Homo sapiens: one gene and its partners. The protein of the gene in region 4 purifies or fractionates together with the protein of the main gene of each other region. This does not show direct contact. Each region holds a gene or a part of one and is shown on either strand. Other genes may lie near its edges. The genes, in order: NMD3, TERT, NUDT14, GNL3L and OLA1.

Evidence for each region.
Region 1: the proteins of GNL3L (region 4) and NMD3 fractionate together in Homo sapiens (co-fractionation; one large-scale study listed by BioGRID). This does not show direct contact.
Region 2: the proteins of GNL3L (region 4) and TERT purify together in Homo sapiens (affinity purification with western blotting, with the first as the bait; one study listed by BioGRID). This does not show direct contact.
Region 3: the proteins of GNL3L (region 4) and NUDT14 purify together in Homo sapiens (affinity purification with mass spectrometry; one large-scale study listed by BioGRID and IntAct). This does not show direct contact.
Region 5: the proteins of GNL3L (region 4) and OLA1 fractionate together in Homo sapiens (co-fractionation; one large-scale study listed by BioGRID). This does not show direct contact.

What each region holds. Positions count from the first base shown.
Region 1 is NC_000003.12:161,238,311-161,241,810, reverse strand, and holds part of NMD3 (60S ribosomal export protein NMD3), read right to left. Parts: intron 3,082-3,500; coding exon 2,985-3,081; intron 766-2,984; coding exon 648-765; intron 1-647. UniProt on the Homo sapiens protein: Acts as an adapter for the XPO1/CRM1-mediated export of the 60S ribosomal subunit.
Region 2 is NC_000005.10:1,274,921-1,281,603, forward strand, and holds part of TERT (telomerase reverse transcriptase), read right to left. Parts: intron 5,419-6,683; coding exon 5,238-5,418; intron 4,551-5,237; coding exon 4,371-4,550; intron 3,877-4,370; coding exon 3,721-3,876; intron 1-3,720. UniProt on the Homo sapiens protein: Telomerase is a ribonucleoprotein enzyme essential for the replication of chromosome termini in most eukaryotes. Active in progenitor and cancer cells. Inactive, or very low activity, in normal somatic cells.
Region 3 is NC_000014.9:105,173,732-105,179,851, forward strand, and holds part of NUDT14 (uridine diphosphate glucose pyrophosphatase NUDT14), read right to left. Parts: intron 4,005-6,120; coding exon 3,961-4,004; intron 3,297-3,960; coding exon 3,232-3,296; intron 3,041-3,231; coding exon 2,803-3,040; intron 2,257-2,802; coding exon of another isoform or gene 2,235-2,256; exon of another isoform or gene 1,757-2,234; intron 1-1,756. UniProt on the Homo sapiens protein: Hydrolyzes UDP-glucose to glucose 1-phosphate and UMP and ADP-ribose to ribose 5-phosphate and AMP. The physiological substrate is probably UDP-glucose. Poor activity on other substrates such as ADP-glucose, CDP-glucose, GDP-glucose and GDP-mannose.
Region 4 is NC_000023.11:54,561,219-54,567,686, forward strand, and holds the end of GNL3L (guanine nucleotide-binding protein-like 3-like protein), read left to right. Parts: 3' UTR 1-6,071; downstream 6,072-6,468.
Region 5 is NC_000002.12:174,237,116-174,243,798, forward strand, and holds part of OLA1 (obg-like ATPase 1), read right to left. Parts: intron 1-6,683. UniProt on the Homo sapiens protein: Hydrolyzes ATP, and can also hydrolyze GTP with lower efficiency. Has lower affinity for GTP.

The DNA of each region.
Region 1 (3,500 bases), on a different chromosome or scaffold from region 4:
CAAAATTTAAAATAACTGCTAGACACCAAATTTTGGCAATGGACTTAAGTAAATAGTCACAAAAATTAAATGAGGTAAATAAGTCAATTTCAGGCTGGACATGGTGGCTCACGCTTGTAATCCCAGCACCTTGGGAGGCCGAGGCGGGCAGATCACGAGGTCAGGAGTTCAAGACCAGCCTGGCCAACACAGTGAAACCCCGTCTCTACTAAAAATACAAAAATTAGCTGGGCATGGTGGCAGGCACCTGTAATCCCAGCTACTTGGGAAGCTGCAGCAGGAGAATAGCTTGAACCTGGGAGGCGGAGGTTGCAGTGAGCTGAGATTGCGCCACTGCACACCAGCCTGGGCAATAGAGCCAGACTCCATCTCAAAAAAAAAAAAAAAAAAGTCAATTTCAGTAAAAATTAATGGAATAAACCAGTAAATATGTAAAAATTAACAGAATTGTTTCTTTAAATAAAAAATACAAAAGTAACTAATCAAAGCTTGCAAATTCCACAATGTTTTGTATTAAACAATAGCACAAATTTTAACTAACCTTTCAAAACAATATTAGCAAGAATGCTTGAAAAATTAACAACACAAATTATTATTGTTTGTCATACAAAACAAAATTGTCAAGGCAAATCATTTCCAGAATTTACCTTGTAGGGTGTTTGGATCAATGAGGTGAATGGCACTGGTTACTCGAATACACACACAAATCTGGTTCATATTTCCCAGGCTTTGTGCCAGTTTTGGAGACAGACAGACAACATTATCCTAGGCATAAGAACTAACATTTAGAATGAGGCATATCCTAAATAACAGTCCAATAAACACTCATCAATAAACACCCAATCCAATTGCATTTGACCAACCAAAACGTTATTTTCAATTCTATCAATCAACAAAGAGACTAAAGAAAAGAATCAGACCTTAAGTATGACAGGCATCTTGTCTTAATAAAAATGCTTTAAAAAAAAAAAAATCCTGGCTGAGCACGCTGGCTCACTCCTGTAATTCCAGCAATCTGGGAGGACAAGGTGGGAGAATCCCTTGAGCCCAGGAGTTCAAGTCTAACCTGGACAACATATGGAGACCCTGTCTCCATATACATATATATATATATTTTAATTAGCCAAACGTGGTGGTGCATGCCTGTGGGCCTAGCTACTTGGGAGGCTGAGGTGGAATGACAGCCTGGGCCCAGGAGGTCGAGGCTTCAGTGAGTTAAGGTGGTGCCACTGCACTCTAGCCTAGGTGACAGAGCAAAACTGTCTCTCAAAAAAAAAAAAAAAATCCAGGGCCCAAATCACCAAGCTATTATTATTTCCATTTTATTGCAGTGTGAATGCCTCTTATCACTCTATATGTTAATACAGTGTACATTCTAAACAGAGTATTATAAACATTAGCAGGAGAGTGATTCTATAAATCCACCTGTGACTTCTTTCAATCTCCATTAAAAAATAAACTTCAAAGGAACACATTTCTCTTACATGGCTACATGTGCCAATATACAATCAAAGATTTAAGCCCAAAAAAGTCACATGTCTACATTTATATTGGGAGACATGAAGCAGCAACGTAATTATCTGTTTTTAAACTGAATTAAAATACAAAAAAGATCTGAGTTATATTTTAAGGTGTATCTATTCACAATCATAACAGCTCTTAGTTCAGTCCTTGGTTTTTAATACATGAGTTTCCAAAGATAAACAAATATACTTTTTTACATAGTTTAATACATATGTTAATTTTTACATGTGTAAAACTCAGTTACACAAGGCCTAAATATGCCCTCACACCTAAATTCATATTTCTCAAGATTTGTACCAGGGAAACATTTACTGTTTTAAACCAGAGGTTGGCAAAATGCCACCCTCAGGACAAATCTGACCCACCATCTGTTTTTGTAAATAAAGTTTTACCAGAACACGGCCCTGACATTCCTTTACATATTACCCATGCTACTTTTGTACAACAGCAAAGCTGAGTAGCTGCAAAAGAGATTATACGACCTGAAAGTTAAAAAATTTACCATCTGTCTCTTTACAGAGAAAGTTTGCTGACCCTATTTTAAGCTATCATTTCATCCCTAGTACATACTATAAAATAGCAATAGCAGTTTTAAAGCTTTGGAGACACAGACCTGGGTGCAAATCCTAGCTTCATCATTTTGTGATCATGTAACTTTGGGCAAGTTATCTAACCTCCTCAAACTTCAATTTCCTCATCGTCAAAATGATATGGCTTACCTCAGTTATTATGAGATGAGAATGAGGTGAAAGACACTAAAGTATCTAGATTAACTTTATGTAGAATGGTCACAATAATGGCAGTTATCATTCTTAGTGATTTAATACTGACATATAAATTCTTACATGGCAGAGACCTGTAGTTATACAATCCTCAGTACACAGCCTTCTATACTATAGATACTCAATAACTATTTATTGAATTTTAATTCATATTTTTCTGAAGCAGAGTTTTATCTTAGTACAATTAAATGAAATAATCTACATTTTAAATGTTTTATTCAGCTTATGTTTTAAAATCATAAAAATGATTCTATGATCTCATTTTCACATTATCACAATATTCTTTCATTTCTTGCCAAAATTTTGTTTGTACATATTCCACAAAGTGGCTCACTAATATTGATTTTAATGTCATTTCTTTTATTCAATTTCACTGAACTATATGATACAGGCTCATAGGATCACAAATTTCAAAGAATACGGACTTTTATCAACTATAACCAGGTCTTTTCATTTTAATACACCAAAATAAAAGGCATGTCAATTCATAATTATAAGCATGACTTTTTTAAAAATATATATCTTTTAACATGGCTGAATGTGTTAGAAGTCACTTAAGGAACTTATTCTAAATTTTTAACCAACCCTAGAGGAAAACCAGGAGCTACAAATTACATATAAGCCAATTAATTACTTGTACTCTTTTACAGATATGGATTAAATGAAAAAGAAAAGTACCTTGCATATTGGAACAATTTCCACAGAAAAAGTGCTTTTGTAATTGTATGTGTTACTATGGATATCTTGAGAGATCAGTCTTTGTGATGCTTTGTATCTATTAAGAAAAAAGTTAGTAGTAATATAAAGACAAAGATCATTAACCTGTATGGACTCAGGAATATCAATTTTCATTAAATCAAACCATCATTGTCCAAGGTCTAAAATGGCTTCATGATGCCTCCTCTGGTAAAACCTACTGTCCTGCACTTGCATGTCAAAACCTTCACCATTCTAACTAAGCCCTACCTATTTTGAACCTTTTCCACCAAACCTCTAGAACATGCTGTTGGCTCAGACCAATCTACTTTCTATATAGCATTATTAAAAGCCATACTAACGCCCACTGCAAATCTTTGTTCACACTAATAGTACCTTTCAATATAAACTCCAGCTATGAAAATTTCCCGATCTTTGGAGCACAAGTCCTACCACCTCTGTGAGTGGGTGGTTAACCCAATATATGCTTCCTGATTG
Region 2 (6,683 bases), on a different chromosome or scaffold from region 4:
ATTACGCAGGAAACAGCCGGGAAATCAGCACACGTGAAACTCTTCTGTGAAGAGAGTCATGAAATGGAAAGACCCCTAGCGAGACCTGGAGAAGGAAAACGGAGGTTGTCAGCACCAAGGCTGCAGGCAGCTATCGCTGCAGATCTCACGGAAGCTGCAGGAAGCGAGTCTCGGCCGGGCGCGGCGGTTCACACCTGTCATCCCAGCACTTTGGGAGGCCGAGGTGGGAGGATCACCTGAGGTCAGGAGTTCGAGACCAGCCTGGCCAACATGGAGAAACCTCGTCTCTACTAAAATTACAAAAATTAGTCAGCATGGTGGTGGGCGCCTATAATTCCAGCTACTTGGGAGGCTGAGGCAAGAGAATTGCTTGAACTCAGGAAGCACAGGTTGCAGTGAGCCAAGATCACGCCAAACCACTCCAGCCTGGGCAAAAAAGAGCGAGACTCTGTTATCAAAAAAAAAAAAAAAGAAAGAAAAAAAGAAAGAAAGCAAGCCTCCAACTCGCAGGGGAATTCCAAGGACGGAGCGTAGCCAGGGCCACATCCAGGCCAATGAACACAAGGAGGCCTGGAAGCCCTGCCCACCGGCCACACACCACAGCAGGCACCACACGACCCCAGAGTGGAAGAAACAGAACAGGGAGCCCAGGGGAGGCCTCCACACCCCTGACTTACTATAAACCCGACCATAGTTCAAAGGAAGATATGGTCTCCTCAATAAAGCTGTTGGAGCACCTGCAGACCCACTACAGGAAGAAAGCTCGCCTTGAACTCTGTGTTACCCCACTCATAAAAACCAATCCCACAGATCCCCACCTATCCCACACATGAAAACCAATCCCACAGATCTCCACCTACCCCACACATGAAAACCAACTCCACAGATCCCCACCTACCCCACACATGAAAACCAATCCCACAGATCCCCACCTACCCCACACATGAAAACCAATCCCACAGATCCCCACCTACCCCACACATGAAAACCAATCCCACAGATCTCCACCTACCCTACACATGAAAACCAACTCCACAGATCCCCACCTACCCCCACACATAAAAACCAACTCCACAGATCCCCACCTACCCCACACATGAAAACCAATCCCACAGATCCCCACCTACCCCACACATGAAAACCAATCCCACAGATCCCCACCTACCCCACACATGAAAACCAATCCCACAGATCCCCACCTACCCCACGGATGAAAACCAATTCACAGATCCCCACCTACCCCACACATAAAAACCAATCCCACAGGTCCCCACCTACCCCACACATAGAAACCAATCCCACAGATCCCCACCTACCCCACGGATGAAAACCAATTCACAGATCTCCACCTACACCACACATGAAAACCAACTCCACAGATCCCCACCTATCCCACACATGAAAACCAATCCCACAGATCCCCACCTACCCCACGGATGAAAACCAATTCACAGATCCCCACCTACCCCACGCATAAAAACCAATCCCACAGATCCCCACCTACCCCACGGATGAAAACCAATTCACATATCCCCACCTACCCCACACATAAAAACCAATCCCACAGATCCCCACCTACCCCACACAAGAAAACCAATCCCACAGATCCCCACCTACCCCGCACATGAAAACCAATCCCACCTACCCCACACATAAAAACCAATCCCACAGATCCCCACCTACCCCACGGATGAAAACCAATTCACAGATCTCCACCTACACCACACATGAAAACCAATCCCACAGATCCCCACCTACCCCACACATGAAAACCAATTCCACCAATCCCCACCCAGGTTTGCAAGCTGACACAGTAAAGACTGTTCTAAAAGGAGGCGCAGAAGCAACGTCACCACAACCTCAATACCTTGAGTTCCTGCAGAGAACACAAACAGCTTTAGCCACAAACAGCTGATAAAGTGGACTGCGTTACTGGACTGTGTTAGTGGACTGCGATAGAAGTACAATCTTCCAGTCCTCAAAAGGCTTGACTTGAGAGCACAAAAGCAAGACACACACGGCACAGAGATTCACAGTGCACGCATGTGATGCCACACTTGCAGCAGAACACACAAAGAGCTCCTGCAAGCCGATGATGGCAGGCAGGCGCCCCATACAGAGCGGGGCAGGACGGACAGCCACCTCCCGCAAGAGCCCCGGGGCGGCCAGCACGGGAACACTGTGGGCACGTGGGCATCAAGAGAGCCCCCTGCACAATCCCACGAGGCGGCTTCGACACCTTCAGGCCAGCGGCCACCGGAGGCATCGCCCTCACAAGCAGCCAGCCGGGGTGTCACTGTCACCCCCCTGGAAACTCCCACAACATCCCTAAAGCACGTCTGTGACCCAGCAACCCCACCCCTGGAATTCACCCAGAGGCGAGGGCCTCTGACCCCTGGGACACTCCCAGAACCCAGCAGGCTCACAGCAGGCGCAGCCGTGCAGTCCGCACCCAGGAGCCTCCACAGCAGCGGGAAGGATACATCCACGTGGCGAGTTCCACAACGGATGCCATTCATGGACAGAACGCACAGCTGAGGCGTTCAGCATAGCTGAGGCTCGAACCCCAAAACCCACCTCCTGCCTGATCTCACTCACATGGAGACCGGGAGAGGGAGACCATGGAGGTCGAGGTCGGAACGAGGGTCACGGTGGGGGCGGTAGCTTCCGCTGCAGCGGGGATGTGGGGGGGGGTCTCCTGGGCTCTGGTGACTTTCTACACCCGGGCACAGGTGGGCGGTGGGGACGGGGGGGTCTCCTGGGCTCTAGTGACTTTCTACACCTGGGCACAGGTGGTGGCCATCAGCTTTCCATGAGGGTAAAATTCTGCTGAGATTTGCAAGTAGCTGCGATAGCTCAAGAAGTCAGAGAAAGAGGTCCTTGTGGGTTTCCACATGTGCCTCTCCCCAGACCGAAGCTCCAGGGATACTTCTTCACCTCTGCACCCCGGCCTGGCACGACTTTGAGGGCTTACCCCTCCAGCGTGCTCATGACCACTGGGTGGGAACCCAAGCCCAGGGCCCCTTTCACCCCTGCCGAGCCCCAAGGCCCCCGGCCGCTCTGGGAGGAGTGTGTCCCGGGGAGCGAGGCCTGAATCAGCCTTCCTATATCTCATGGAGCCGGCATAGGCCAGACTGGGGTCCTGGGGGTGCCAGGGGTCCAGGAAGGTACCACCAGCATCCCTACTCTCCTCTCAAACCTGGCTTACAGTCTCCAAGGCCCAGCCCTGTGACAGGACAGGGGCACCCATGCTAGAAGTGAGGACCCTGAATGTGGAGCTCCCCAAACCAGCACCCGAGAGCGTGAGGACAATGGTGCGGACCATGCCTGGAGGAGGAAGGAGTAAGGCCAAGGGGCCACACACACCCATGCCATAGACACGCATATGTCACGGACACATGCACACACACACACCACAAATAGGCACATCACAGACATGCAGCACACAGCATGAACATGCACGTGTCACAGACACACACACATGCACACCACAGGCACACACACCATGGACACACACGTGCCACACACACACACACCACAAATATGCACGCCACAGATACATGCACCACGACACACACGTGCCACACACGCATATCACAGATGTGTAAATCATGGAAGTACCTCCACCACAGAAACGCATCACAGACACGACTGCATTCTAGACACATTCATATCCCAGAGACACACATCCTGGACACGACTATCACACGTGAACCTTACGTGGCTCTTGAAGGCCTTGCGGACGTGCCCATGGGCGGCCTTCTGGACCACGGCATACCGACGCACGCAGTACGTGTTCTGGGGTTTGATGATGCTGGCGATGACCTCCGTGAGCCTGTCCTGGGGGATGGTGTCGTACGCGCCCGTCACATCCACCTGTGTGAGTGGAGGCGAGGAGACTGACAGTGGCCACGCAGAAACTCAGACATCACCTCTGCCCTCAGGGCCTGGCCTGGCGGTGTCCCCCACTCTCTCTCTGACCCCCACCACTCCAGACCCCAAGGGCAGGGCGGGCTGTGTCCCCTCTCTGAGCCTCAGGACAGGAGACCCCTGGCTCAGGACTGGGGTGCAAGGCACCGGGGCCTGGTGGCTGAGCCGTTGCGGTTCCTTCTCTGACGGAAACTGGAATCCAGTGGGACCCTCCTTGGGAATAGGAGCCCGGGCAGTCAGGGTGCACAGTCGGCCCCATGTGCTGCAGGAAAGGCTGAAGGCCTCCACCCTAGGTGCCAGGTGTGTCCTCAACAGTGACAGGGTCACCTGCACTCCCTGCGGCCCACCCAGGAGTACCTCCTCCACCCAACATGAGGTGCCAATCAGGCAGCCACTCCCAAGGTCCAGCAGGGCTGCTCACGGGGGTCCCCGGCACCCACCTTGACAAAGTACAGCTCAGGCGGCGGGTCCTGGGCCCGCACACGCAGCACGAAGGTGCGCCAGGCCCTGTGGATATCGTCCAGGCCCAGCACAGAGGCGCCCAGGAGGCCGGGGCGCCGCGCCCGCTCGTAGTTGAGCACGCTGAACAGTGCCTTCACCCTCGAGGTGAGACGCTCGGCCTGGCGGGGACAGCATGGGAGACAGTCAGGAAAGTGGATCCGGCCAAGTGCCCACCCCACCATAGGGACCCAGGGGAGAAGCAGCCCCTCCCCAGTGTCCCCAGCCACCCAGACCCGGGACCTAGAACCCCTCCCAGCTTCCTCAGACCCTGTTTGAAACGGGTTCCTGGCCGCATGTGTGTTGCACACGGGATCCTCATGCCACACCTCTGTCCACCTCACCCCACACTCTCCTCAGATGACGGGGTCACCGCAGCCACCGCAGCCACAGGGGTGGGGTGCAGGAGCCGTGGGGCAAGGTCCAGGATCCTCAGAGCCCGGTGGGCTCCTGGCAGTCGTGGCCTGGTCCCCGGGCCCCGTAAGCGGAAGCGCACGGAGGCTGCGCACCACAGCAGGACACGGATCCAGGACCTCGGGCCGTGCTGCATCCAGGCCCTGGCCCGGCTGCTTCTTGTGGTCCTCAGAGCCTGTCCCTGCCCCAGGAGCTCCCCCTACACCCCCACGCTGCTTTTCTGGAGGCACCGGCACCTCGGCCACCTCACTGTGCGCACAAATGGGTTGGCGCCGTGCCATGGCCCTGGCTGTGTCCCGTGGCCCCTCCTCCGGGCCCTTCATCTAAGCTGATACCAAATGTGGGGCTCAAACGCACTTCTGTTTAAAAAGGAAGTTAAACCAAAGCACAGCCACCCTCTTTTCTCTGCGGAACGTTCTGGCTCCCACGACGTAGTCCATGTTCACAATCGGCCGCAGCCCGTCAGGCTTGGGGATGAAGCGGAGTCTGGACGTCAGCAGGGCGGGCCTGGCTTCCCGATGCTGCCTGACCTCTGCTTCCGACAGCTCCCGCAGCTGCACCCTCTTCAAGTGCTGTCTGCAATAGAGAGCCCCTCAGGAGGCTTGCTCAGCCAGACAACAGACTAGGGGGAAGCTCACGGGAAGCCACAAGCCCCCACCGACTCAGTGAGGGCTCAGGGCACCCACGGCAGCACACGCTGAAGGCCATGCCCGGGGCCACGTCCACCCATGCCAGCCAGACGCCTCTGAGAGCCCCTCTACTTGCAGGGCACCTGGACACCTGGTCCTATAGTCAACCCTGGGGACGCCCAGTCCGGCGGTCAACCCCCAGGGTGACTGTCCCACCATCAGCACCAGGGAGCCTGGTCCCAGGCTGCATCTGGGGCCACGTGAACCCATGCCCCTCCACACAGGATGCCTGTCCCTCTGGTACAGCCACTGGGGTAGCCCAAGGCTGGCCCCAGGCAGGACCCCCAGGTAGAAAGAGCCACATCCCTTCAGATGGAGAGGGCGGGAGAGGCTGCTCAGGGCAGCTCAGCCAAGGAGCAGAATCAGCTCTCATGAGCCCACCAGTCTCCTGACACCTCTGCCCTTTGGCCTTTTCCCCCAAAACCACCCATGGGGGCACGGGGGCTGGAGCGGCCACACCTGGACCTGGGCATCTGTGGCTGACAGCCTGGCACTCCGTGGACACTGGGGCCGCGGGTGCTCCGGAGCTGGTGCCCTGACCGCAGGCCGCAGGCCCAGCAGAGTAGAAAAGGCACGGTACCCTGTCCAGGGAGGAGGGGCCTCCAAGGCCCCCCAGGCAGAACAACAGTCCCAGTAGTGACAAGGAGCATCTTGGGGACCACCACGTCTGTCTGCTCCTTCCGGTCACCCCAATTAAATTCTTTCCAAAATACTGGTCAAATGACCATGTTGGGTCGCACACCATTAAATACGTGTAAAGTCTAAGTAAGGTGCATTGTGTATTAACTTGTTCCCACAGGGAAAGCCCTGACCCTCCCCCAGATGCAAGGAAATGGCCCCAGCACCACGTCGGGGTCCCCAGCCCAGAGGCTGTGTTACCTCTGACGAGGTCTGCTGCCAGCTCCCTCTGCAGACATCCTGATTTGGGGCATGGGGTGTCACAAGGCCCCCCAGGGACTCGAGTGTGCAGGGGAGCTGGGGAAGCCCTGATCTTCTGACTAAAGCCCTCCACAGTCAGCCTGGGCGGGACACGGAGAAGCTAATACCATGGCCTGGGCTCAGCCAGGCTGGCATCTCCCAGACCAGCGCTCCCGTCCCTCACTGATGCAAATCCAGCTTGAATCTGTCACAATCTCACACTCTCATCAGCCG
Region 3 (6,120 bases), on a different chromosome or scaffold from region 4:
TAACCTCGTGAGCCGGGAAGACCCCAAGCCCCCATGAGATTGCAGATCCGGCTGACAACCTGCCTGCAACCTGTCAAGGCCAAGCAGAAGACCCCACCCCTGTCTGCAGCCCCCAACCAGATACCCTGAGGCTGTTCCCAGTGCTGTTTGGAGCCCCTCAGTCTGTGGCCAGCTGCAGAGGCCCATGCCAGACCCCAGCCCATACCCGGGGACACAGGCTGGCTGGGAAGCAGGGACAAACCCACCAGGCCTTCCCGCAAGGGTTCCCCACCAGGCACCCACAGGACACAAGTTTCAGACTAGGAACAGCATGCACTGACCGCCCCCCCACCCCCCGTAGCATGGCAGAGTGGGGTGGGGTGGCAGCGAGGTCCTCAGTACCAGGCCCAGTGGCCCAGGCTGGGGAGGGGTAAGAGGAAGCCCCCTCCCTCAGTGGGCAGTGGCCAGAAGGGGGCTGCTGGCAGCCAGGAGGGGTCAGGCACCAAGGGAAGGAGCCTGGACTGGCGTGTGTGGAGGGAGACCACGGGCTAGGAGGACAGGATGGCAGAGGGGCTGGGCTGCATTCTGGAACAGGAGGGGGAGGGCCAGGTGTGGATCTGGGGAGAAACGGGACTGAGGGGCATCTGGGAAGATGACCAGGGGGTGGGGGAGCCCTGGCTCGCCGCAGGAGGGGCTGTCGGGTGCCATGAACCAAGGCCAGCCGGAGGCCTGCAGGGTAGAGGCCGCCCTCTGAGATGTACCCAACATACAGGGGCAGGGACAGAACTGGGGGCTTCCATGCCCCACCCCCAAGGCCTCCCCACCTCCGGGGGGACTCACCCCAGACCGACCTTACCCAGCTGCTTCCTTGCCCTCTAGCCCCTCACCTCCCGCAGACCCCTTCCTGATGGCCCATTTCCGGCGGCGGCCGCGGCTGCGCCTCTGAGGGAAGTGGCGGGTCTGGGGTTTCCAGCCCCGGTTTCCGCCGGCTTGTGAAGGAGACAGGCCCGGCCCTTGGCCCGGGCTGAGAGGAATCTGCCAGCCAGGCTGGGCAACGCCTCCCCCACCCCAGGGCACGTTCCAACTTCACTCCATCACGCCCCAAGCTGACTGCCTCCCTGGGCCTTGTCCTTTGCAGCGGCAGGTAAGAGGCCTGGCTCACCTCCAGAATCAGAGACAGGGAGCCACGGGCCCTGCCACAGGGTGGGTGAACTTTGCTGTCAGTCCAGCCCCCCATCAGGCCCTCAGAGACGGACACCCTGACCCCTAGTCAGCAGCATCTCCAGTCCTGCATCCCTGAAGCCACGGCCTGCTCTTCCCGATGCGAGTCTAAGCAGGATGCCTACTTCCCAGAGCCCTCCTTGGCTCCCCAGCACCCTCACAATCAGGCTGTGGCCCAGAGGCTGTACCAGTAGAACCACCGCGGCCAGGGCTGCTTGACCACTTGCCCTGAGAGCCTGTGCGGTCCCTCTGCCAGGAACCTGCCCAGGCCCACCTCCTCCAGGGGGACCAAGGGGACTCCAGCCCCTCCCATGCCTCCCGGCTGTGCTCAGTACTATGGGCTGGGGAGCTGGGGGCACAGTGGGCGTGGCCCACCACGGGGTAGACACCTGCAGAAAACCAAGGCCCATCCTTCACACCCAAGTCCACCCTTCGGCATGGAAATTCTGTTTTGTTGAGACAGAGTTTCGCTCTTGTTGCCCAGGCTAGAGTGCAATGGCGCGATCTCGGCTCACCGCAACCTCCGCCTCCTGGGTTCAGGCTCACCGCAACCTCCGCCTCCTGGGTTCAAGCGATTCTCCTGCCTCAGTCTCCTGAGTAGCTGGAATTACAGGCTCCTGCCACCACGCCTGGCTAATTTTGTACTTTTAGCAGAGGCGGGGTTTCTCCATGTGGTCAGGCTGGTCTCGAACTCCTGACCTCAGGTGATCCGCCTGCCTCGGCCTCCCAAAGTGCTGGGATTACAGGCGTGAGCCACCGTGCCTGGCCCAGCGTGGAAATGCTGCCTTTAACTTGGGAGTCCACCCATCCAGCCAGGAACGTGCCCAGGTGAAGTCCTTGAGGCTGCTGAGGTGGGAGGGCCCCAGGCTCAACCCTGAGTGGCCCATGTGCCAGGCTGACAGGTGCAGAGACTTCCGGTGCTTCTCCCAGTGGAGCGGGCCCTGGCCTCTGGAGGAGGCTGTGGAGGCTGGTGCTCAGCTGGTGGGGGTGGGGGTCTGTGACACCCTCCTCCTTCCCCAAGACCTCAGCTGGGGTCAGGAGCCCATCGTAGCGTCCCTGGGGAAGTGGATGGGCTTCATACCAACATCTAGTCCTGGGAAGGCAACCCCACCCCAGCTGGCAGCCCTCGCGGGGCAAGAGTTGGTGCCTCGAGTTTGGTGGGTCAGGTCCCAAAGCGCAGGCTCTAGTGCCTGTTCCCCAGGAGAGCTGGAGCCACCCCTTCTCCAGCCCAGGACACAGCTTCTCCCTCATTCCTAAGCCACCCTCTGAGAACAGAGCTGTGAGTCACCCCCACCCCCAGCGCCCGGTCTTAATCCTACAGGAAGTAGAGGCACCTGTCAGCAGCAGCTGTCACCCGGCCTGCCTCACACAGCTGGGGGCCGCAGGCTGGGGGCATGGGGCCGAGACGCTGCAGAGAGAGCCCCAAGAGCCCAGATTCTGGCCTGGCTTAGGAGCTGAGGCGCATTCGGTCCAACCCTCCCCTAATCCCATGTTGGAAAACAAGGAGGAATCCATCCTGCTTGCACACTCCCAGGGACGGGGCCCTCACTCTCTCCCATCTCCTGAGTCACACCACAGGCCTGAGGGCCTGGTCCCACTCACCAGTATGTGGCGACCCGGCGCAGATCAGAGGGGGCCAAGTGGTAGCCACACTCCTCCCAAGCCTCCTTGCAAGCCACTTCCTCCAGCGAGAGCCCAGGCTGGTCCACGAGGCCGGCACACAGCTCAACTGTCACCCCCGCTGAGCCGGGCAGGGCTGGCTGTAGCTCCCGAGGCCCGTCCTGGTCTACAGCTGCTAGGGACCCTGGGAAGCGGCGCTCCACCTCACCCGCATACACAGCTGCGTGGGAAGAAGCCAGACTGTGCTCACAGCCACGTGGTGGCCACCTCCAGGTCACCCACACAGCCAAGCCCCCTCCCAGGGCCTCAGCTTCCCCTGGAGCCCCCTCCCACATCTGTATTCAGACCCTCAGGACCACAGGGACCTGAAGGTGACCCTGCAGATCCCCTTCCCACCCCAGCTGGCCTCACCTGGCCGGAACTGCTTCACCAACACCAGGCTCCTCCGAGAAGAGTTGAATAAGAGAACGGTCACGCTGTGTACGGGGGGAGGGGCTCAGCACAGAAGCACTCCACTGGCCCTCGTGGGGCCCCACCTCCCATCTTTCTGTTCCCAGCGTGGCCATCCCACCTCCTTGCCAGCAGCCCAGGGAGGTCAGGCCCCTTGCTCAGATAGGATGGCTGAGGCCCAGGCGGGACCAGAGCTTTCCAGGGTCACAGTCTGGCCAGGACCCAGACCTGCTGTATTCCAGCTGGCAGGATGGGAGGCGGGGGGCAGGGAAGGACACACGGGCAGCTGAGTAGGTCAGGGTGCTCGCAGCTGAGGCCGGGTGACTGACAGGACGTTTGGCCCTCACTGAGCAGCTGCCCACCAGCCACACTCCTCGAGCCACGTCGCCATCCAGCCCAGACCCTGGATGCTAGGGGCAAAGGCTCCAGGACAGCCTCTCCCTGCCCTGAGAGGGCCTGCCCACCATCATGGTCCCGGTGGCCTGAGCAAAGACCTGACTCAGCCCCCAGGCCTCAGGCTGACCCCTCAGGGATAGGAAACCCAGAGGCCGGGCAGAGAGAAGGGACTTTTGGAGCCCACGCAGGGAACAGCAACGTCAGGGAGGAGAGGGCACCTTCGCCCTGGGCCCAGTGTCCCCGTAGACATCAGTCTGGGGCTTCCCCAGTGGCCAGGCTGGGCCAGGCTCTCACCTGTCATGCGTCTTCATGAAGTCCCAGGACTTCTGGGCACCATTCTAGAAGGGGCAGGTCAGCGGTTAGAATGTCCCAGGATGGGCGGAGGTGCTCGGGGAACCGAGGAGGCCACAGACCCATTGCACCCACTCCTAACCAGGGAGATCGGCTCGTGGCCTGGGCCCACGGGAGCCAGGAACTGCAGCTCCCGTGGGCAGAGGAGCAAGCAGCCTGGGAGGGGCAGGGAGGTCAAGGACAGCCTAATACCCTACGAGTGAGGCAGAAGACCAGGGCAAAGGGCAGGGAAGGTGTCCAGGCACCTCATGAAACACTGCCCAGCACAGACCGAGCACAAGGGGCTGCAGAGAGACGTACACCGTCACCAAGTATAGGAAGGCTCATGGAGGCTCGGGGAGGGCAGGCGTGACTCCCTCACAGCAGGGCAGGAGGGCCCTGCAGGCAGAGGAGAGGTCAGGTTTTCCTGCTGATGCTTCCTTGGGCCACTGAACAGGTGGAGACGGGAGGGCAGGAGGGGCCGGCACCAGGAGTGGATGGGGAAGGGTGGCAGGAGGGGCTGGCACCAGGAGCAGATGAGGAAGGGTGGCGCCCCAGCCAGGTAGGAGATCGCACTGCAGGACTCGGTGACTGTCATGATGGTGACCAGGCTCGGCAGCCCCCCCACACACCCCTACCCCCAGTTTCTGGCCTCGACTCTCCCACATACCCTGTGGTCCCGTTCTCCTGTGGCCACCCTCCACCTTCCCACTCCCCCACACTGGGCACACCACCCTGGCAGGCCCCTGCACCCTGGGTGGCACTCAGTGAACGGAGGAGGCAGGGTGGGCAGGTGTGTGGGCTGGGCCTGCTGGGGGAGGCTGGAACTGATGCATTCTGAGATGCACTCCCATCCTGGGGGCTGAGCCTGGGGTCCCGCGGGGTCCCATCTCCGGCACGCTCAGCCCATCTGCCACTCTGAGGCCCAGGCCAGCTGCTCATCCCCCACCGGGGGCTCTGCCCAGGGCTGTGAAATGGACAAGAGGTCTGAGCAGCAGAGACACAGAAGTGCAGCCAGGACTGCAGAAGAGAGAAGAAGCCTTCCTGAGGACTTTCTGGAGGAGGTGACGGAAGTGAGGGAAGGGACTCTGGGCAGGCAGAGGCGCAGAGGCCCTCTGAGCTTGGCCGGGAGGCAAAGGCGTCCTGGGAGGAGAGTACCGGTTTCCAAGGGAAGGGAGGGCCGGCGTCCCGCGCAGGTCAGGCAGCCCGAGAGGCCGTGGGGTACCACTCCCGGGAGGCGACCCCAGGCCTGCCTGACACCCAGCCACCCCCGAACCACCACCCAGCCAGGGCAGGCTCCAGGGAAGCCCCCTGCCCACAGCCTGCCATGTGCCTGCTGTGCCCATGCCCCTTCCCCACCACTGCTTCCCCCCGAGTAACATCACCCCATGCAGGTCTCAAGGACCCTCTCAGCTCAAGGTCAAAAGCGTGTCAGACCCTTAGGTCCAGCCAGGTCAAGGTGCAGGGAGGTTTAGGGAGGCTGCTGAGGCCTGGGAGGGAGGGGCAGGGCTGGGTGCAAAGAAGACCCCATCGCCTCGGAGCCACGGGGGTCCCCTGCCTTTGGTCTGCCTGACATCACAGGCCTCCCCTGGCTGGACGCAGCAAAAAGCTGAGGGCTGCAGCTGCCCCTGGGTGGCAGCCAGCGTCCAGCCCAATGTCCCTTGGCCCTGAGGAGATGCCGCCCAGCCCGAGCCTACATCCGTGTCCACCACAGCCACAGCCCGAACCAGCTCAGCTCTGGTCACCAGAACCCTTCAGCAGAGCTGTGCCGGCGGGCTGCCCGCTGAGGCTGCAAGGGCTGCCCTGAGGCTTCACGGGGAGTGAGGGAGAGAGTGCTGCCACCAGGGCCACAGAGGGCACCTGCCTGGGCCTGCACCTGCTGCCTGAGACCCAGCCCTGTGGGGACTGTGCAGCCACAAGCAGGCATCCCATATGGCCAACGTCAGGGAAAAGGGCAGTGACCCCATGTCTCCACCTGCTGTACCCCGACTGATCCCAGCTGCCCCCTGCCAGCACCACCAGCTTAGCTTCGCCTTGGGGAGAGGGATCCCCTGTCCTCCAGCGCCAACAGGACTCCCGCAACAGGGAAAGTGAGGGGCACAGGGCCTCTCTCAGGCTGGGGGC
Region 4 (6,468 bases):
ACTCTGCCTACAAAACTCTCTTAGACAGGTGAATATGCCACTAGAAGTTAGGTTGCTGGTAGACCTGGGGGTCCCTGCGGGAGGGTGATGGTTTCTTTACCACCCCACAGGAGATTTCAGTGGCAAGGCATGCCTGCAGTGGGCTTTGGGCCATGCATCTTCCAAGTCCATAGGTCTTCACCTGGGTGGCAGTGAGAAAAAGTAGAAAGTAATGAGCCTCCTGTGTCTCTGGAAGGTTCTAGGGATAGGGTAGAGGGAAGAAGAGAACAAACAAGCCTGGCTTGTGCTGAAGTGTGGTAGGCACTACCCTGTTTGCGTGAAGAGAAAACAAAGCACCTGTTAGTAGGGAGGCTTTAGGGGGAAGCCCCGTCTTGGGGGCATTTCTGGGCAGATTGTGAATTGGAGGAATCTCTTTAACTGAAGTACTCTGGCTGGACCCTGCCCTTGTGTGACCATGTCTCCTATTGCACCAGCATTTGAATTCCATGGCTCAAGAGGGTTCTGGTACCATTTATTCACAGACTGTATCCTCGAGAGAGCTGCTATATATGGGAGTGTACCAGCCAACTCCTTTTCCAGTGTCTGTAAGTCACCTCATTAAAGTATAATTAGCTGTCTCCTCTGGGAGATCCTACCCCATCAGACAAGGGCAGTGAGCCCAAGCAGTGCCAGAGGCCCTCAGAAAGGGATTAGGGTAGATGATTGCAACTGAAACACAATCTTCTTTCTTTGCCAGGGTATTTTGGGGGTTTTGCCCCAAAATATACCCTGGGCATAGCATTACTGCAGTCTTGGATGTCTACCCCAAACTTCCACACCATCCTTCGACCCACAGCTGCACCTTTATTTATTTATTTTGCTCTGTTGCCCAGGCTGGAGTGCAATGGCGTGATCTCGGCTCACTGCAACCTCTGCCTCCCGGGTTCAAGTGATCCTCCTGCCTTAGCCTCCCAAGTAGCTGGGATTACAGGCACCTGCCACCACGCCTGGCTAGTTTTTGTATTTTTAGTAGAGACGATGTTTCACCATGTTGACCAGGCTGGTCTCGAACTCTTGACCTCAAGTGATCCACTCGCTTCGGCCTCCCAAAGTGCTGGGATTATAGGCGTGAGCCACTGTGCCCAGCCTCACAGCTGCATCTTAACCTTACCTTTGCCTCTGCCTCTCAAGCTGGTACCTCCTAATTTACATCCTAAGAGTGGAACCATGTGACAAGGACTGGAGTGCCATTGGCTGTGGACTGTTCAGGCAGGGAAGTACAAGACCACTCTTGTATTCAGGGGCAACCAAAGGAGAGAATTACGTACTTGTTGAGTACAAACTGCACCAAGCCCTGGAGACCCATTACCACCGTTAACCCTCAATACAGCTCTGCTAGTAAGGGATTCGTCTCCCCAAATGAAAAAAAAAAGTAATCTCAGAATGTTGGCCGAGCATGGTGGCTCACACCTGTAATCCCAGTTATGCAGGAGGCTGAGGCAGGAGAATCACTTGATCTCAGGAGGCGGAGGTTGCAGTGAGTCGACATCACACCACTGCACTCCAGCCTGGGGGACAGAGTGAGACTTCGTCTCGGAAAAAAAAAAAAAAAGTTGACAGGATGGCCAGACCCAAGTGGGCGTATTAAGTGGTGGTGCTAGGATTGGAACCCAAGCGTGATTAAAACCCTATGCAGGCCCTTTCCTCTATATTGTACTGCCTCCTTAACAAAGGAAGATTGATTAAGCCCCTACTTTGTGCCAGTCTCTGTTATCAAGTCCGTTAAATGCATTTAACGTTAAATTTTTTCTTTTTTGGTTTAAAAAACTCTAGTTTCTTAAACTACTAGTTTTTAGTGTCTTGCTAAAACTATGTGCTCTTGAATAGGCTACAACTTATTTCACACTATCTCATTGAACTCTCCTGGTATGTGATAGTGTTATAATGAAAAATTGCATACCAGGACAGCTAAGTCTATTTTGCAACCATACAGCGTTTCATAATTTAGCATTTAAAATACAGACAGTCCCCGACTTTTGGTGGTTTGATGTGGGATTTTTGGTGGAAAAGCAGTATACATTCAGAATGCACCTCTACTTATGATGGGGCTACTTCCTGGTAAACCCATTGTAATGTGCAAATTACGGGTTTATCAGGAGGTGACCCCATCGGTAATGGAGAAGTGCTGGGAGGTAAATATTAGAAATGGAAGTATCTAAATGAGTAAGAAACAGCATGGGAGCATAATTTGGCCAAAATCAAACAGAACTAAAGTAGTCATGTCGGTAAGAATTTGGGACTGCAGGCCAGTTACGATAGCTCTCACCTGTAATCCCAGCATTTTGGGAGGCCGAGGCAGGCGGATCACTTGAGGTCAGGAGTTCAAGACCAGCCTAAACAATATGGCGAAACCTCATCTCTACCAAAAAAATACAAAGATTAGCTGGGCATGGTGTCTCATGCCTGTAGTCCCAGCTACCTATGGGGCTGAGGCAGGAGGATCTCTTGAGCCCAGGAGGTCGATGCTGCATTGAGCCGAGATTGTGCCACTGCTCTCCAGCGTGGGCAACAGAGTGAGACTGTCTCAGGGGGAAAAAAAAAGAGGAAAACAAAAAAGACGTTGGGAGTGCAGTTTCTCTACCTACAGCATATCTCAAAGGTTTTTTTTAAAAAAGTATTTTCTTAACTTTTTACCTTCATTTTTCAAAACAATTAGGGTACAATTTACATATAGTAAAGTTCACTCTTTATAGTTTTAGTTATGTGAGTTTGTACAAACATATACAGGAGTGAACCACTACCACAATCGAAATATAGTTGCATCACCCCCCTAAAACTCTCCAGGCCCTTTTGTAGTCAACTCCTACCCCCGACCCTCAGATTCTGCTAACCACTGATTTGTTTTCTGCCCCTATAGTTTTGCTTTAGTATGACTGTCATATCAATAGAATCATACAATGAGTAGGCTTATTTTATGCCTTCAGGTTTTAAAAATTATAAACATTTACATTACAGTAAAATTCACTCTGGTATACAGTTCTATAAAGCTCTGATAAATGTGTAGAGTTGTGTAACCACCAATGCAACCAAGGTACAGAACAGTCCTCTTAGCCTCTCCCTACCAAATTTATTCCTGCTACTTTGTAGTCAAAACCAGTCCCCTACACCCAAACCCTGGCAGTCACTGGTTTTTTTCTTCGTTCTCTTTTTTTTTTTTTTTTTTTTGAGACAGAGTCTAGCTCTGTTGTCCAGGCTGGAGTGGTGCAGTGGCGTGATCTCGGTTCACTGCAACCTCCGCCTCCAGGGTTCAAGCGGTTCTCCTGCCTCAGCCTCCCGAGTAGCTGGGATTATGGGCGCCCGCCACCACGCCCAGCTAATTTTTGTATTTTTAGTAGAGATGGGGTTTCACTGTTTTGGCCAGGCTGGTCTCGAACTCCTGACCTCATGATCCTCCTGCCTCAGCCTCCCAAAGTGCTGGGATTACAAGAGTGAGCCACTGCGCCTGGCCTTTTTCTTTGTTCTTATATTTTTGTCTTTTTTTTTTTTTTTTTTTTGAAACAGAGTCTCACTCTTTCACTGAGGCTGGAGTGCAGTGGCGTGATCTTGGCTCACTGCAACCTCCACCTCCTGGGTTCAAGCGATTCTCCTGCCTTAGCCTCCCGAGTAACAGGGACTACAGGTGCCCACCACCATGCTGGGCTAATTTTTGTATTTTTAGTAGAGGCGGGGGTTTCTCCACACTGGCCAGGCTGGTCTTGAACTTCTGACCTCAAAAGATCCACCCACCTCGGCCTCCCAAAGTGCTGGGATTATAGGCATGAACCACCGTGTCCGGCCATATATTTTCGTCTTTTGAAGACTGTTATATACATGAAATTATATGGTATGTAGCATTTTGAGAGCGACTTCTTTTGCTATGAGTAATACATTTGAGATTCATCCATATTTCTCAGTATATTAATAGTTCTTATTTCTGAGTCACTCCATTGTGTGGATTTACTACTGTTTGTTCCCCAGTTGAAGGATGTTTAGGATCTTTGCAGTTTTGGACAATTACAAGTAAAGCTGCTATAAACATTTGTATGCAACATTTTGTGTTTTCATTTATCTATAGTAAATACCTAGAGTTGGATTGCTGGGATATATGGTAAGCATATGTTTGACATTTTAAGAAACTTCTAAACTGTTTTTCAAAGTGGCTCTACCATTTCACATTCCCATCAGTATGAAAGTTTCATTTCCACATCCTCTCTAGTACTTGGGGGTGTCAGTTTAGTTTTTTAATTTTTAAATTTTTTAATTTTTTTAATACATTTAAATAGAGATGGGGTCTCACTGTGTTGACCAGGATGGTCTTGAACTGCTGGCCTCAAGTAATCCTCCCATCTCGGTCTCCCAAAGTGCTAGGATTACAGGTGTGAGCCACCATGCCCAGCCAGGTTTTTTGACATTAAGTATGTGGTGGTATCTCATCGTTTTTATTTGCATCCTCTAATGATTTGAGCATATTTTATATGCTTATTTGCTATCTACATATCTTCTTTGGCAAGGTGTTCACATCTCTTGCATATTTTGGATTGTTTTATTATTTTTGAATTTTGAGGATTATATGCTGGATACAGGGGTGTTTTTTTTTTTTTTTTTTTTTGAAACAGAGTCCTCACCCAGGTTGGAGTGTAGTGGTGCAATCTCGGCTCACTGCAACCTCTGCCTCCTGGGTTCAAGTAATTCTCATGCCTCAGCCTCCTGAGTAGCTGGAATTACAGGCGCAGGCCACCATGCTTGGCTAACTTTTATATTTTTACCAGAGACAAGGTTTCACCATGTTGGCAAGGCTGGTCTTGAACTCTGGACCTCAAGTGATACACCCGTCTTAGCCTCCCAAAGTTCTGGGATTACAGGCATGAGCCATTGTGCCTGGCCAGTATCTTGTCTTCTCATTCTGTAAACGGTGTCTTTTTTTCATTATGGGAAAGCTTTATTGACACATTTGTTTTTATTTTTAAAAATTATGGTAAAATACACAGAACATAAACGTTACCATCTGATATGGTTTGGCTGTGTCCACACCTAAATCTCGAATTGTAGTTCCCATAATCCCCACACATATGTACCACATTTTCTTTATCCAGTCTTTCGTTGATAGACATTTAGGTCGATTCCATGTCTTTGGTATTGTGAATAGTGCTGCAGTGAACATATGTGTGCATGTGTCTTTATGGCAGAATGATTTATATTATGCATAACCAAAACTGTACTTATTAAACAATAACCTCCCAACCCCTTCTGCCCACAACCTCTGGCGACTGCCATGCTACTTTCTGTCTCTGAATTTGAATACCCTGATAGTCATATAATATTTATCTTTTTGTGACTGGCTTATTTCACTTTGCATAATGTATTCAAGCTTAATCTGTGTTGTAGCCTGCGTCAGAATTTCTTTTCTTTTTAATGCTGAGTATTATTCTATTGTGTGTATATACCACATTTTATTTATCCATTCATCCACTGATGGACATGTGCATTGTTCCCACCTTTTGGCTATTGTGAAAAATGCTGTTATGAATATGGGTATGGAGATCTCTCCCCTTATTTTGAGACAGGATCTCACTGTCACCCAGGCTGGGGTGCAGTGGTGTGCTCATAGGTCACTGTAGCTTCGACCTCCTGGGCTCAAGCGAACCTCCCACCTCCGCCTCTTGAGTAGCTGGGACCACAGGCATGTGCCACCATGGCTGTTAAATTTATTAATTTGTTTTTCTATGGATCATGCTTTTTGTGTTACATCAGAGGAGTCTTTGCTTAACATGAGATGACAAAGGTTTTCTCCCATGTTTCCTCCTAAAAGTTTTATAGTTTTAGGTTTTACATTTAGGTCTATGATCCATTTTGAGTCAATTTTTGTATATGGTACAAGGTATGAATCTATGCTTTTTAAAAAAATATGGTTACCCAATTTTTCTAGCAGTATGTGCTAAAACTTTGCTAAAGTCACTTAGTTCTAGTAGCTTTTTTTGCAGATTTAACCAGACTTTCTACATAGACAATCATATCTTCTGTGAATAAACATGGTTTTATTTCTTCATGTCTAATATATATGTCTGCATTTTTTTTTTTGTCTTATTGTAGTCGCTGGGACTTCCAGTACTACACTGAGTAAGAGTGGTGGCCAGGTGCGGTGGCTCACGCCTGTAATCCCAGCGCTTTGGGAGGCTGAGGTGGGCTGATCACCTGAGGTCGGGAGTTTGAGACCAGTCTGACCAACATGGAGAAACCCCGTCTCTACTAAAAATACAAAATTAGCTGGGTGTGGCAGCGCATGCCTGTAGTCCCAGCTACTTGGGAGGCTGAGGCAGGAGAATCTCTTGAACCCAGGAGGCAGAGGTTGCAGTGAGCCGAGATCACACCATTGCACTCTAGCCTGGGCAACAAGAGCGAAACTCCATCTCAAAAAAAAAAAAAAAGAATGGTGAGCACAGGCATCCCTGT
Region 5 (6,683 bases), on a different chromosome or scaffold from region 4:
GCTGTACAAAAATATTTTTTCTTTATATCCTTATTCCATATGCTTTTTTATATCTTTAAAATGTGTGCTTTTTTTAAAAACTTTTTTGTTAAACACCGAGACATAAACACATACATTAACCCAGGCCTACATGGAGTCTGATCATGAATATCACTGTCTTCCACCTACACATTTTGTCCCACAGGAAGGTTTTCAGGGGCAATAACACACATGGAGCTGTCATCTCCTATGATAACAATGCTTCCTTCTGGAATACCTCCTGAAGGAACTGCCAACGGCTGTTTTACAGTTACTTTTTTTTTTTATAAGTAGAAAGAGTACACTCTAAAGTAACCATAAAAATTACAGTATAGGCTGGGCATGGAGGCTAATGCCTGTAATCCCAGCACAAAGAGACTGAGGCAAAGAGATCGCTTGAAGCCAGGAGTTCAAGACCAGCCTAGGCAACACAGGAAGTCCCCATCTCTACAAAAATATATCTTTTTAATTACTCAGGTGGGGTGGCGTGTGCCTGTAGTCACAGCTATACTCAGGTGGCTGAGGCAGGAGGATTGCTTGAGCCCAGGAGCTCTAGGCTGCAGTAAGCTATGATCAGGCAACTACACTCCAGCCTGGGCAATGGAGCAAGACTCTGTCTCAAAAAACAAACAAACAAAAATTAACTATAGTAAATACATAAGCCAGTAACTGTCATTTATTATCAAGTATTACGTACTGTACATAATTGTATATGCTATACTTTTATATGACTGGCAGCACAGGCTTGTTTACACTAGCATCACCACAAACGTGAGTAATGCCTTGCACTATGAAATTACCACAACTACAGTATCACCAGGTGATAGAAAATTTTCACCTCCATTATAATCTCATGGGACCTCCGTCATATATGCAGTCAGTCATTGACCAACATCATTATGCAGCACTTGTCTGTAATAGGCATCCCAGAAAGGGAATAAAGTAGAAGATTATCTTCAAAGCACTAGAAGAATAACTGTTAACCTAGAATTCTACCCAGTGAAAATATCTTTCAAAATGAAGAAGTGATAAGCACATGAAAAGATGTCAATATTCTTAGCCATCAAGAAAACACCAATTGGCCAGCCACGGTGGCTCATACCTGTAATCCCAGCACTTTGGGAGGCGGAGGCAGGCGGATCACCTGAGGTCAGGAGTTTGAGACCAGCCTGGGTCAACATGGTGAAATCCTGGCTCTATTAAAAATACAAAAATTACCTGGTGGTGGCGCATGCCTATAATCCCTGTTACTTAGGAGGCTGAGGCAGGAGAATCACTTGAACCCAGGAGGTGGAGGCTGCAGTGAGCCAAGACTGTGCCACAGAACTCCAGCCTGGGCAACAGAGTGAGACTCTATGTCCAAAAAAAAAAAAAAAAAAAGAGAAAAAACACCAATCAAAAACTTCACAACTTGGCTATAATCAAAAAGATAACAACAAATGTTGACAAGGATGTGAAATATTGGAACCCACATACACCACCTGTGCGCACATAAAATGGTGCAGCCACTTTGGAAAACAGTTTGGCAGTCCTCAATAGTTAAATATACAGTCACATGTGACCCAGAAATTCTACTTCTAAATATATACCTAAGAGAAATAAAATCATATATCTAAATAAAAATTTATGTATCCTAAGGCTGAAGCAGACAGAGTACAAATAACATATTGTACTGAAATATAAAATATGTTGTATATAACTGAAAGATACTGTGGTGTCAGAAAGTAGAAAGCACTCAAAAAATAAAGAGGACATGTCAAAAGGAATATAAGTGAACATAAAGGCTCCTAATCACCAAATATGGGCAATTAGAGTGACAAAATAACAACAGTAATGGATTATAACCAAAAGAATAAATTAAGAATCTATACTGATATAAATAAATTATAATCAAATACATGAATAAATGGGAAACTCTTTTGTACAATAGGATTTTACACAATAGAAGTTCCATTGTTCCTTCTACAAATTGTTTCTTCTAAATGTAGAAGAAATAAGGGATATTTTTTAATCACCATTTGGCAAACACCACAATAATAACTGTTTCAGTAAGAATCAATAACACATGCCAAAATTAGGGGGCAAAAGTATGAGAAACAATATATGTACAAAATTTCAAAGGACCCCCTACAAGATGCTTATTAATTGCAATGGGAAAAATAACCCTTTCAGTGAAGAAATCTGTCAGATACCAACGAGCAATCAAAGTTAATATCACCAAAAATGGACAAATCAACATCATGTGCTTTCTAATACACTGTATTGAAAAGCATATGTCACTTATGTGCTCAAAAGTACATAACTTGAAATTAATTATGAGGAAACATCAGACAAACCCCAAATGAGAGCTGTACATAATAACTGGCCAGTACTCTTCAAAAGTGTCAAGGATATCAAACACAAAAAGAGACTGAGAATGTGTTCCAGGTTAAAGGAAACTAAGGAAACAAAACACTTAAATGCAGCTGGGCACAGTGGCTCATGCATATAATCCCAGCACTTGGAAGGACGAGGTGGGAGGATCACTTGAGGCCAGGAGTTTGAGACCAGCCTGGGCAACATAGTGAGAACCCATCTCTACAAAAAAAAAAAAAAAAAAAAAAGTTAAAAATTAGCCTGACATAATAAAATGTGCCTGCAGTCCCAGCTATTCAGGTGGCTGAGGTGGAAGCATCACTTGAGCCCAGGAATTTGAGGCTGCAGTGAGCTATGATCAGGCCAAGGTACTCCAGCCTGGATGACAGAGCGAGACTCTATCTCAAAAAAAAAACAAAAAACAATTAAATGCAACATACAATTATGGATTGAATCTTGGACCAAAAAAAGGACATTAGAGGGACAATTAGTAAATCAATGTTTATTTCCTGATTTTGATCATTGTATTATAGTTATAAAGATTTTAACACTTAGGGGATCCAAGCAGAGGTTAAATAGGAATTTTTAAAACTATTTTTGCAACTGTGAGTTTTTTTAAGCATGAAATTATTTCAAAAGAAATTTTTTTTCCATATGGGTCTTACTATATTGTCCAGGCTAGAGTGTAGTGGCTATTCAGAGATCTCACTACCCATCAGGACAGGAGTTTTGATCTGCTCTGTTTTTGACCTGGACCAGTTCACCCTCCTTAGACAACCTAGTGATCCTCCACTCCTGATAGGTCACCATATTGATGCTGAACTTAGTGCTGACACTGGATCACCACTGTGGGTGGCGTTGCAGACACCCAATCAGCATAGCACAACACAGCCCAGAACTCCTGGGCTCAAGGTATCCTCCTACCTCAACCTCCTGAGTAGCTGAGACTACATGTGGGCACCACTGAGACCAGCTCAAATTTTTTTTTAATTTAATCTTAAGTGAAAAGTCAAGCAAACTGGCAAGAGATCATTGTAATACATATCCAACAAAGAACTCATATCCAGAATAAAAAACTAATCATTAAGAAAAAAAAAGACTTTTTACATAAGATATCCAATAACATATGGAAAGATGCTCAAAATCACAAGCCATCAAGAGATATCTCTGATATCCATAGATACCTGTCTTCTCGGTAGACATGGGAATCTGACTCTTAGCTTAATTTTATCAGCTCTTTAGAATGAAAATACTCAGATCATCAGTATTTGCAGCCTAGAGAATAATTTTCCTCCTGTGAGTTCCTTTGAGCAATCAAGAATGGAGCTTCTAAAACACAAGTGAGCTAAGAATCAACTAGGCAGACTTCTAGGAACACATAGACATCACATATTTTGTATCAGGAAAATAGTGGACTGCAGTGGATTGAAGATGGCCACACATTTTTTGTCACTCCTCCCATCAAGAGGTAGAGTCTATTTCCCCTCTCCCCATGTCTCTGGGCTGGTGTCATGACTTGCCTTGACCAAAAGATTTCTGTGTAAGTTTGCTATGCCACTGCCACACCTCCATTCTCTCGAGAGCCAGACGCCAAGATATAAGGAAGCTTGGTCTAGAGACCACTTAGAAAGAGAATGAGGCCAAGTATAAGAGAAGTGCCCCAGACTTCCAGTCAATCCAGCTAAGGCCCCAGATCTGTTAAAATGGCCATCTTGGATCTTTCAGTCTCAACTAGCCACCAGCTGAATGCAGTCACATGAGGGATCCCAATGAGACTGGCAGAAGACCTTTCTAACTCACTACATTCCCGACGAACAAAAATTGTTACTATTTTAAACCATGAACTTTTGGAATGGTTTGCTACACATCAACAGATAACTATACAATGGTGATAATTCTCTTGTGATTTTTTCTTTTTTTTAGCATTTTCTACAACCTTTTCCCTCAGCAATGGTAAATGGCTTTCACAGACGCTGTGATTGGTCTGCAGAAATTTGGGAGAAGGCAATTTGCAGGGACACCAAAATGCATTCCCAGAAGGATCAGCTAAACAAGACAATTACTCTCCTGGGGCAGTTTGTGAGTGTTTGAACACAGTATACTAGTTGCCCATAATATCCATTTTCCCCTTCTTTCAGAGTAATCGTTTTTTGTTTTTTCTTTTTAAGACAGAGTCGCACTCTGTGGCCCAGGTTGGAGTGCAGTGGCACAATCTTGGTTCACTGCAACCTCTGCCTCCCAGGTTCAAGCCATTCTCCTGCCTCGGCCTCCCGAGTAGCTGGGATTAGAGGCGTGCGCCACCACACCCAGGTAATTTTTGTATTTTTAGTAGACATGGGGTTTCACCATGTTGGCCAGCCTGTTCTCAAACTCCTGACCTCAAGTGATCCGCTTGCCTCAGCCTCCCAAAGTGCTGGGATTACAGGCGTGAGCCTCTGCACCCAGCCAAGAGTAACAGAATTTTTAACCAAACATGTGGCTGTCAAAATAAAGACTACATTTCCTTGCCTTCCTTGCAACTAAATTCTTGTGACTAAATTCTGGACAAAGGGATGTTGGCAGAAGTATGGTATGGCAGTTTACAGGAAAAAGGCTGCTAGTCAAGTTTGGCCCCCTGACCCTTCGGATAACCAGCTGCCTGGAATTCACAACACCTTAGACCAGCAGCCGCCAACCTTTTTGGCACCAGGGACTGGACCGTGAATTGGCTGATGGAAGCCAATTTTTCCACGGACCAAGGGTGTGGGGGATGGTTTCAGGATGAAACTGCCCCATTTTAGATCATCAGGCATTAGTTCGATTCTCATAAGGAGCGTGCAACCTAGATCTCTTGCATGCGCAGTTCACAACAGGGCCTGCGCTCCTCTGAGAATCGAATGCTGCTGCTGACCTGACCGGAGGTGGAGCTAAGGTGGGAATGCTCACTCGCCTGCTGCTCGCCTCCTGCCATGCAGCCTGGTTCTTCACACGCCACAGATCGGTACCAGTCCCCAGCATGAGGTTCGGGAACCCTAGCTCTAGACCATGAGGATGAGGCCACATCCTAGGGATTGCCAAGCTGTGAAGTGAAAGGAGCATGGGTTCCTGAGGACTTCATAAAGCAGGTCCACTATACCAAGCTATGACTGCAAAATGTACATTTTTACATGAAGAAAAAAAACTGGTTATCTGGGGTTTTCTGATGCTCTTAATTGAACCTAATCCCATCTGATGCAGTGGATAGCAACAAGAAGAGCTATCCCTCACAGAAATAAAGAAGTTTGGAACACTGTATCAAAACGTACTTTCGCCCCCAATATTCTCTAAGCCTCACAACCACAATAATACACTGCTCCAACAGGAGCTCATTTATAAAGGGTCACTCAGGTAAGAAAAAGCAGTACAGAACTAGAAACCAAATCTCCATATTCTTTCTACTTCATTAAAAGAGGTCATTTAATTGCCCAGCACGGTGGCTCACACCTGTAATTCCAGCAGGCGTGAGCCACCACACGGGGCAAGGAGACAGGCTTTTTTGTGTTTTTGTTGTTTTTTTTTTCAGATGGAGTCTCGCTCTGTCACCCAGGCTAGAGTGCAGTGGCGCGATCTCAGCTCACTGATACCTCCGCCTCCCAGGTTGAAGCAATTCTCCTGCCTCAGCCTCCTGAGTAGCTGGGATTACAGGGGCGTGCCACCACACCTGGCTAATTTTTGTATTTTTAGTAGAGATGGGGTTTCACCACGCTGGTCAGGCTGTGAAACCAGCCTCAGGGCAGCATGGTGAAACTCCATCTACAAACAATACAAAAATTAACCAGGCACGGTGTTTTGTGTGCCTGCAGTTCCAGCTATTCAGGAGGCTGAGGAGTAGGGACTGCTTGAGCCCGGGAGATTTAGGCTGCAGTGAGCCATGATCATGCCACCGCACTCCAGCCTGGGCAAGAGAATAAAATCTTGTTCAAAAAACAAAAACATGTCTCCTTATCACTAAATCTACATCCAGCCGTCAAAGGGGAAATATGTATCCCATTAACAAATAATTACTAAATATCTACTATGTTCCTAACACCATCGTGTCCCGTTAACAAATAATTACTAAATATCTACTATGTTTCTAACACCAGTCTAGGCACTAGAAATATACCAATAAGCAAGAACGAGACAATCGGTACCTTCCTACCTTCACAGAATTTAAATTGCAATGGAGGGGAATGTCAAACCACTTATTAAATTAGATAATATATATAAAGTACTCAAAATAGCGATTGGCATATAGTAAATGTTCAATATCTGATTAGCTATAAATATTACCTCTAAGTTTCTGGGTCATC